2 separate regions of the Homo sapiens genome follow, and region 2 is linked to region 1. Evidence: fine-mapped expression QTL. A gene starts in region 1. The other region holds a variant in brackets. All regions are shown on one strand. Distances are from middle to middle. Region 1 holds the start of SMIM2-AS1 (SMIM2 antisense RNA 1). Region 2 has its middle 13 kb from the start of MIR8079.

What was found. PIP is the estimated chance that this variant, and not a neighbour inherited with it, causes the effect.
Region 2: its variant is the best candidate, but not a certain one, in a credible set for the expression of SMIM2-AS1 in left ventricle (GTEx, PIP 0.77).

What each region holds. Positions count from the first base shown.
Region 1 is chr13:44,108,039-44,113,425 of GRCh38, reverse strand. SMIM2-AS1 (SMIM2 antisense RNA 1) reads right to left here and starts at 2,877. Exons shown (of 5, transcript NR_104065.1): 1 at 2,814-2,877. All of the region lies in intron 2 of LINC00390 (long intergenic non-protein coding RNA 390), which reads left to right.
Region 2 is chr13:44,180,411-44,185,797 of GRCh38, reverse strand. No RefSeq gene overlaps it. Among named protein-coding and RNA genes, the nearest start is that of MIR8079, 13 kb to the left of the region's middle. The variant C/T (reference allele first, on the strand shown) is at 2,266.

The DNA.
Region 1 (5,387 bases):
GATCTTTGCCTGTCAATATGCACTCAATCAGTATTTCATGAATGAATGAATGAATGCAAGAAGAGATAATTTCAGGTGCTTTTCTCTTTTCTTTTTTTCTAAAAGCAAAATAACATCTAACACACAACCCAGCATCTACCAGAACAGAGACAGGCAATAGTGAGGAAAGTTATAGTGGTCTCAGATGGCTGTCTGGGGTCCCAGTCAGCACTGCTTCTGCCAATTAAAATTATTTGTCCTGGGCTTCTTTCACTGTCACAGAGCACCCTCTCCAGTCTTGCTTGATTTCATAAGCAAACAGTTCTCAAGGAGTTGAATAGCCACAGAGGTACAGAATTATCTTTCACCATCTTCTAATGAGTTGTAAGTCACAAACAACAAAAATAGCCTCTTGAGAAGCCCAAATATTGAAAGCAGTCGTCTACTAATGCGTTTCTGCAGAGAGAGGAAGAAGGCAAATGGCTGGAATACCAAGAGGGATGAGATCTACCTCTGCCACTTCCACGACCCAGCATGACAGAAAGTAAATTTTCATCTCTACGCAATAGCAGACACGTAGGAGGGATTCCTAACTCTCACAGGAAAAGGAAACAGGTCATGAAGGTGTTGAGTCTGAGACTCACACATACCCTGAAGATTGTAGTTGATTTCTCAGTGTATTCATCACCATTTATCTTTAAAAGGCAAGCACGACCATTTGTGAAATCCTCTCACAAAATCATCTCTAGAAAGTTGAGCCTGTAATAACAAAATTATTTCTATGCCTTGGTAGAGGGCCCACGAAAATAATATTTTTGATTTAGTTACAGGAATTCTCTTCAGCAAACAATACTGTTAAAGTGTTTTCTCTGGGCTCTGTCCACCTAATAGTTACTGTTTCTAAGTGGGGAAAATGGATTTTGTTCTGTTACAGTTACTATGATTTATACTTTTTTGTCCGGTTATCAAATTATTGTTAACCTTTATCTATCTTTACTCTTTTTAACCTTAAATAGTTCAACTGTTCAAAATTTATCTAAATTACTTTAAAAAAGAATCTAAATAATCTACTCCCAAATCCAAATCTAGAAGAAAGAAAATGATTCTTAAGAGACTACTTCCTTGTGTCTCTGACAGTCTTCAAATCACTTACTTTCCATTTAGTTTCTTTGCAGTTTCACTGTGAAGTGACTGAAACTTCATTTCTATTATATTCTGGAAATTTGGGGATCTGAGATCTAGCAATGTACTCATTTTAAGAAATTACCTTACAGGAAAAATGTTGAGAAATTCCCTGGAGTGTTCCTAAACCAGCTTTGCTGAGGTGTGGGGTTTGGACTCCACTTTTAGTGAGGGCCTGCTGTGTGCTCACCACCATGCCTGGCAGCTTCTGCTGTCATCTCGTTTCACCCTTTGAAAAGTCTAGAAGGAGAGCAGGTATTGTCAGGCCCATTGTGAAGAAATTAAAAGCAAGACTCAAAGAAGCTGTAAGGTGCCTAGGATCATAAGACCAGTAAGCGTGGGTGAGGCCAAGGCTTGGCCTGGATCTCTTACCTCCACTCCTTATTGCTTGTCACATTGTGTACCGATGTCTGGGTATTTTCCCAGCCTGCCATTGATCTTAGAAGGAAAATTCTGCACTGGTGCTGCTCCAAGAGATACAGAGGATGCATTGATCTAACCCAATGTGTTATGTGGTTGATTTCTAAGGTGAAGTGAAATCAGTTCCAAAAAGGTTTGAAGAGATCAGCGCTGTCCATCCAGGGTTAAGACCCTATGTGTACCTTCCCTGGAATTCCATATTTATTGGTGATGCTATTTCTGTCTCAGAAAAGTCCCCCTAATTTCCAAAGTGGCTTACAAATAATAGGTTCTAGATCATCTTGAAAAAATTGGTCAGGTGATTGTGTATAAGAAAGAGGACAATTTTATATCACAAAAAGGAAAATGCACCAACATTTATATGTTTGCATTCAACTGTATGTTGTGCACAGTTGTGTGTGTGTTGGGGTTGGAAGAGTAAGTGTCATGGAAACTGAACGATGCTGGGAAATACATCCTAATTACTCAGGACCATATGTTTTTTATAAACAAGCAAACAAGAGTCATGGATTCAACTATAATGGATAAAAATCTCTCAAGTTAAAAACAATACAAGGAAGTAAAGTAGAATAGCACAGTACAGTAGTTAAGCATGAAGTAGTTAAGCTTGAAGCCAGTTGCCTGAGTTTATAACCCAGTCTGCTAATTACTAGTTGTGTGACATTTGATAGGTCAGTCACTTAAAAACAAAATAAAACAAAACAAACAAATCCTCTGTTCAATATTCCCCTCTATAAAGTGGACACAATAATAATAAGTATGCATAAGGATGTTGCGAAGGTTAGATGAGAAAGTGCAAATGAAATGTCTGATACTTCATAGAAGTGTGTTATAAAAGAGAAAAATATATATACGATTTTTGAACTCCTTGTAATAGAATAATATATTTCTCAGGTTCAAGAAGTTGGGAAAGAGTTAATCACAACAGAATTGTCACCATGCTAAGAGAGAGAGCAAGTGATTTTACTACTAGAAGCCAGTATGAACCCAATAACACAGTATGGGGAAGAGAACATCTAACCAATGCATAATAATTAGGATATTGTTGAGAACCGAGCCCTCCGAGCTTCTACATGCCTTTAACAATTAGTAGGTCAATGACCTTGCTCAGTGGATCTCCACTCATATGGGAGGCACCAGCAAAATGAAGAAAAACCCGCAGACGCTCTTGTAGGAAATGCAATTAAAGTGGAAAGGCCTAAAATAACATTTCCATTGTGCCCCTCACTTACATTGGAGAGTCAGGGCCAGACTGGGAGGCTGGCAGGGAAACAGCTTGGCACTGCAGGCCACCTGGGGTCCATTTGCCAACAGGACTTGTGGCTAACATCCTTTGATAACAAATTTCCCAGAGTCACAGGGCTCTTTTAGATCACCATGATTCCGGGTCACAAGACGGATGGGAAGCCACAGAGCCCCGGGTCCTTTCCGTGAAGTTAAATATTACACCATCCATAATGAAACATCTTTGTATCTCCTCGTGGCCACAATTACTTAGTCACTGATTATACAATAAACTCTTCAGAAATAATTCACAAAGATGAGAAATCAAACCCCACCCTTTTATGTTCTGAGGCATGAACCAGCTCCACCTCTTGAGAGAGGGAGGTAAAGCCTGTTGCACATCTTCAGCCCATGGTATTTTCCGGCAAATGTGGAAGACCCTCAATATTGGAAGGTGATCTGCAGTTCCACAGGGAGACAGTACAATGGGTGCCTGCCTGGGAATGGCAGTGCCTGGCTTCAGATACGATTTCAACCGATCAGCTGTATAGCACTGGGCAAATTACTTAATTTCCTAGGCATCTCAGTTTCCTTATTCACCAAATGGCAGTAATAATTGCACCTACTTCATAAGGTTGTTGGACCTGGCACACTGTAGTTGCTAAATAACCGTCAACTATAATGCCCATTCTCCTGAGTCGTTCACCTTTTCGATAGCCTAGCAAAAAGTTCTTTGAAAAAATGACAACTACCAAACAAAAGGCATATTTCATATAGACAAAATAACTCACATTGTCTCTTACACATGATAGGGACCTTGCCCATGATTGTGGCCCTTACATAATCTGGATAACCATTTGGGTTTTTATTGCTATGTGGTGCTTCTTCTGCAAATGGTATTGTCCTTTGTGAAACCCACTGCTTTTACCTTATCATTGGCAAATACTTTTGGGGTTTACTCGAAATGTATTCACTGGCATGGGGAGTATGGATGAGGTCCCTCCTTCATGGAACTTAGATTCTGGTTAGGTAAGGGGTAACAATAAAGCTTAAGAAGTTTTAGGATCCCAAACTCAGAGTTCAAGGGGCTCATGTGTGAGGAACTCTAGGGGGAGGAAGAAAAGAAGTAAAGTTTAAGCTCAAAATTGAAGGCGGCTGAGAGTTTTGCTTGAGAAAGTGCCCCAGGTGGGTGGAAGAATGTGGTTCCAATACCTAAAAGGAAAAGAAGCTTGGAGTTGAGAGGAGCCGAGGCCTTCCACCCACCTGCAGCAATGTCAGGCGGTAAGAGGATGATGGTCAGGCTGACCTAGGCTTGGAGACCACATCAAAGGGTCAGGCTTGATCCCAAAAGTATCAAGGAATCACGGAAGGGTTTCACACTGGGAGTGAAATGGTCTGACCTGAGGTGAGGCTGGATCATCTTGGCTGCTCTGTGAGGCAGGAGAGAATGTGGGGATCCTGGTGGGAGGCTGTGGCTGTCAAGTCGGCACAAGTGCACCATCTTTTAATGATTCTGGCCCAGACTTGGGTGGTTTGGAGGTAAAGAGGTAGATAGATTTGAGAAACATTTAAACATTTGGCTTAAAACTAAAGCTAGCCCTCCCTGCCCCACAAATCAGGATAAGTAGCAACATTAACCTATAGTCGGCCCTTCTGCTACCAACACCCAGGACGTTTTTAGTTTGGAAAAAGAAGGGACCTGGTATCTAAAGTGCAGCTTGGGGGTTTTCTACTGAGGTCAATGACCTGCACTGCTCTGCCTGACCCATTGCCACCTCAGACACTGAAGCCTGCTCAGCCTCCTCTCACCCTAATTACACTTATCATGCAAAGCCCTAATACAGCCAGGAAGGGCTCAACACCAGTCCCTCTAGCCAAACAATCAGCAAACTAAGATAACTTTAAAGAGTGTCAAGCCCAACTTTATGACTCCTTCATAGGCACCAAGGGCATTGTCTCAGCAGCCTCAGCCACCAGACAGGATGGCCCAGGGCTGCTTGTTCCTTGACCTGCTAGGACCAACTGTGACTCATCTATTTACTGCAGAGCAAAGGTAACTTGGGTTGCACAAGTTGACAGCTGTCTCCCAGGTGACAATCAGTACTGGAAATAAAGGCACTGGGCTTTAACTGGAAAAGTTTCTACTGGCATAGACCCAGGCTGGATGAGGCAGGGACGTGAGAGATGGCATGCACGTATTTTAAAGAACTGGGGTCCTCACAGCTGACTGGCTATTTCAAGTCACTCTTGTTATTATCTCACTGAGCAGCTTGGAGCCTAGTGATGTCACTTATATGTGCTCTGTTATTTACAGTTTGGATATTTTAGGCCCACAACCGTACTTCCTTTCTTGGCAGAAGGAAGATTAGGAGCAGCAATAATATTATAGTAATATTGGTATCATTTATTAATGGGATAGTCTATTCTGAAAGCAGTATGTCACTCAGGTTATACACATTGTCTGTAACCCAGGGTTCACAACCTAGGGTTCGCTTAGGAATCTCCCAGGAATCTTCAAAATACTGGTGCCTGGGTCTACTCTCCAAAGACTGATTGGGTAGGACCAGGGCATTGGCATGTTA
Region 2 (5,387 bases), 72 kb before region 1:
AATAATTCTCAAACTCTTCCTTCTAGGTATTCTTAAAAGCAGATCAGAAAAAATGGATGCAGCAGTGAATTTGCCTGGAAAGGGAGCCTGGAGTAACCTGACTTTCCTTAAAGTTAGGTTTAAGATATAATTTACATAAGTAAAATTTTTATTGTATAGTTGGTTGAATTTTTACAAATACATTCAATCATGTAACCACCATCACAATGAAGGTAAAGGGTATTTTTTATCATTCCCAAATTTCCTTATGCTCCTTTGCAGTCAATTTCCTTCCTCTACTCCCAGCCCCTGGCAACCACCGAGCTAATTTGTACCCCTGTAATTTTGCCTTTTTCAAAATATAAATGGATTCAGACAGTATGAAGCCTTTTGTATCTGGCTTCTTTTGTATTGTTTAAGACCTGTTTTCCCCCTTTTTATTGGTACATAATAGTTGCACATATTTGTGGGGTACATGGATATTTTCATACAATCATACAATGTGTAATGCTCAAATCAGGGTAATTGGGATATCCGTCACCTCGAATATTTATCTTTTCTTTGCATTCAGAACATTCCCAATCTTCTAGGTATTTTGAAATTTATGATAAGTTATTGTTAACTGTAGTTGCCCTACTGTACTATAAAACACTAGAAGTTACTCCTTTTATTTAACTGTGTTATTGTACCTATTAACCAACCTCTCTTCATCCCCCTTTCCTCTCCCCTTTCCAGCCTCTGGTCACTACCATTCTGTTTACTACCTCCATATATTTTTCACCATATATGAGTGAAAAAATGCAGTATTTGTATTTATGTGCCTGGCTTATTTCACTTAATAACTTCCAGTTTCATCCACGTTGCTGCAAATGACAGGATTTCATCCTTTTTCATGGCCAAATAATATTCCATTACATATATATAGCACATTTTCTTTATCCATTCATCTGTTGATGGACACTTAGGCTGATTCCATGTCTTGACTATTGTGAATAGTGCTGCAATAAACATGGGAATGCAGATATCTCCTTCACATACTGACTGTCTTTCTTTTGGGTATATACTCAGCAGTGGGATTGCTGGATCATATGGTAATTCTGTTTTTAGTTTTTTGAGGAATCTCCCTACTGTTTTTTGTAGTTGTACTAGTTTACATTCCCACCAATAGTGTAAAAGTGTTCCTGTTCCTCTGCATTCTCACCAGCACTTGTTATTTTTTGTCTTTTGATTATAACCATTTCAATTGGGATAAGGTGATATCTCATTATGGTTTTGATTTGCTTTTCTCTGACAACTAGTGATTTTGAATATTTTTTCATATACCTGTGGACCACTTGGTTGTCTTCTTGTCAGATATGTCTATTCACATCTTTTGCTCATTATAAAATCAGATTATTTGTTTTATTGCTATTGAGTTGTTTGTGTTCCTTATGTATTATGGTTATTAATTTCTTGTCAGATGGATAATTTGTTTTCTACCATTCTGTAGGTTGTCTTTTCACTTTGTTAATTGTTTCTTTTGGTATGCAGAAGCCTTTTAGCTTGATGTAATCCCATTTATCAATTTTTGCTTTTGCTGCCTATGCTTTTGGGATCTTACTAAAAAAAAAACTTTGTCCAGACAAATGTTCTGAAACATTTTCCCAAAGTTTCCTGCTAGGAGTTTTATAGTTTCAGGCCTTACATTTAAGATTTTTAATTAATTTTGATTTTTGTATATGATTAGAGATAGGAGTCTAGTTTTATTCTTCTCTATATGGATATCCTGTTTTCCTAGCACCATTTATCAATAAGACAATAATTTCCCCAATGTATGTTCTTGGCACCTTTGTTGAAAATTTGTTGGCTGTAAATGCATGAGTTTATTTCTGGACTTTCTATTCTGTTCCATTGGTTTATGTGTCTGTTTTTATGCCAGTACCATGCTGCTTTGGTTACTGTAACTTTATAGTATATTTTGAAATCAGATGGTATGATGCCTCCAGCTTTGTTCTTTTTGCTTAGGATTGCTTTAGCTATTCAGAATTGATACGAATTTTAAGATGGTTTTTTCTATTTCTATGAACAATGTAATTGGTATTTGGATAGGGTTTTCATTGCATCTGTAGATTACTTTGGGTAGTCTGGACATTTTAACAGTATTAATTCTTCCAATCTATGAACATGGGCTGTCTTTCCATTTTTGGGGGTGTGTCATCTTCAATTTTTTTCACCAGTGCTTTATCTTTTTCCTTGTAGAAATCTTTCTCTTCTTTGGGACAGGCATGGTGGCCCACACCTGTAATC[C/T]CAAGCATTTTGGGAGGCTGAGGCAGGTGGATCACTTGAGGTCAAGAGTCCAAGACCAGCCTGGCCACATGGTGAAACCCTGTCTCTACTAGAAATACAAAATATAGCTGGGTGTGGTGGCCGGCACCTGTAATCCTGGCTACTTGGGAGGCTGAAGCAGGAGAATAGCTTGAAACCAGGAGGTGGATGACAGAGTGAAACTCTTGTCTCAAAAAAAAAAAAAAAATTCTTTCTCTCCTTTGCTTCATTTTATTCCTAAGTATTTTATTTCCTGGTAGTTACTATAAATGGGATTGCTTTCTTGATTTCTTTTTTTTTTCAGATTGTTCGCTGTTGGCTTATGGGAATTGCTGCTGATTTTTGTATTTGGTTTTTTATCCCGCAAATTTACTTAATTTGTTTATCAGTTCTAACAGTTTTTTGGTGGAGTCTTTAGTTCTTTTCTAAATCTAAGATCATTTTACCTGTAAACAAGGATAATCTGACTTCTTTCCAGTTTGGATGTTCTTTATTTTTTTTTCTCTTATCTAAAAGAGATCTGTTGTATGATTCTAGAAACTATTTGAATTTTATATTCAATGCTGACATATATGCTATGTATATCAAAAGTTGAGTAATGTATCTATGTTTGTTCTAGTATTGGAATATATTTAAACCTTATATTTGAAACTTAAACAATTAAATTACTTAAATGCAACTGAATAATAATTAAACAAAACTAATACTCTGTGAAGATGCATCATTTTCAAATTTAACAACATCTCTACTAATTATAAAGGTGTTGTGTTCCACATGTTCTCACTCATAGGTGGGAATTGAACAATGAGAACACATGGACACAGGAAAGGGAACATCACACACCGGGGCCTGTTGTGGGATGGTGGCGGGGAGGGATAGCATTAGGAGATATACCTAATGTAAATGACGAGTTAATGGTTGCAGCACACCAACATGGCACATGTATACATATGTAACAAACCTGCACGTTGTGCACCTGTACCCTAAAACTTAAAGTATAATTAAAAATAAATAAATAAATAAAGGTGTTGTGTTAGAAGACACCCCCAAGAAAGTTCAAAGAGAGATTCATTAAATATTACAAATATATGGAGCAGGCAATAATGAGCAGTAGCCTTCTTACCTTTACTAGAGATTGAAATTATAAGTGTCTTACACCAATATTATATGTGAAATAAATGAAAAACATTTTTAATAAGAAATACATCCAAATAGGCCACATGAAATGCTCAATAGTAATGAGTCATTGAAACATCATCATACCCTAAAGTCTAAAACTAGTACATAACAGTAGGAATAATAGTAGTAATGGCCGTGGGCCCCTGATGTTAAGTTGGTAACCACTAAGCCAGTTCCTTACAAATGGAGTCTTTTGTGGTTGGTTGTTTCCATGGGCATGACTCATTTGTCGGATATGTTTAATACCTGTCTCTGTAATGTTTATTTTTTTAAAAAGTTATTGTATGAAGGTTGTTCTTTCCACTGAAGGTCTAGGTTATGGATGAGATAAACACAAAAAAGAAGAGGCACCCACTTGGTCAGCTGGACAAGCTTCCTGGGCTGCTCTTCTCAGCCATTCCTTACTGAATTCTTTAAGATCTAGATCAAATATTGCCTCTTCTGTGCTCCCATCATGACCCATTCCCTAGCCCAAGGCAGAATGATTTCTTACTTTTGGCCTCTCATAACACTGTGCACATATAGTTATCACATTTTATGGCAATTAATTCTTATATGTGTGTATCTGCTGCTACACTTTCATCTGCTTGAAGACAAGGATTGTCTGACCTCTGTATTATAGATCCTGGCATATGGCAAATCCTTAATAAATATATGCTAAATTTAGTTGAGCCTTGCCAGGCACGGTGGCTCACGCCTTTAATGCCAGCACTTTGGGGGGCCAAGGCAGGCAGATCACTTGAGGCCAGAAGTTCAAGACCAGCCTGGCCAACATGGTGAAACCCCGTCTCTATCAAAAATACAAAAACATTAGCCGGGTGTGGTGGCACGTGCCTGTAATCCCAGCTACTCGGGAGGCTGAGGTAGGAGAATTGCTTGAATCCCGGAGGCGGAGGTTGCAGTGAGCCAAGATTGTGCCACTGCATTCCAGCCTGGGTGACAGAGCGAGGCTCTGTATCAGAGAGAAAGCAAAAAAGAATTTAGTTGGCCCTTGCAATCCATGATATGCCACATGTCACAGAACTCCCCAGTCAGACTTACGAGAACTAAGAACTGGCCTGTGTAGATGGAAAGCTAGTATCCATTCTAATTTGTGCATCAGGCCTCAGGTTTCCTGCCAATCTGCCAAGCTTTTGACACAGATTCCTTCTCTGAGCCTATTTGCCCAGTCCAACTACAAGTATAATTCCTGCTCTGACCCAGATCCACTGCCCCTTCTTGTTCCAGCTCACCAAGGTCTCCTGGTTTGGCCCCATGCATGAAATCTAATACGTGACCAAGGCAACCCTGTTGAAGAGCCTGGCAGGGCAAGCCCACACTGCCAGGTCCCAAGTGATACCCAACTCTCCTGGATGTCTGCAAGGCAACTGGGAGGGCCAAGCAGAATAAACTTTCACATGAGTATTGGGTCAAGTAGCTTATGTACTGCCCACAGCAAACCCTGAAGCAAGAAGCAGTTGCAGGTGTGGGCCAGGTTGAAGCCCAGGAATAAGCAGATTTGTTGGTTGTGATTTCTTGCTTGTTCCTCTGGCTGTGACCATTCCATCTACGGGAAATAGACAAAACTGGAACAAGTGTTCAGGGAAAAGAAAAAAGGAAAAGGAAGTACAGGTAGGTCCAAACAAGGTTAATGGGTGCTTTCTATTCAGCCCCAATTAGGGCTCAGTTACCCCTCTTATAGTGAGTTCAATAGTTGACCCCCAAAGATATGGCCACATTCTAACCCTTAGTTCCTGTAAATGTGAACCTATTTGGAAACGTGTCTTTGCAGATGTAATTAAGTTAAGGATCTTGAGATTATCCAGAATTTAGGGTGAACCCTAAATTCAAAGACAAGTAATAAGAAAAAGGCAGGAGATTTGGGACAGAAACAGACAGAGGGAGAGGGCCAAGTGAAGACAAACAGAGATTGGCATTCTGCTGCC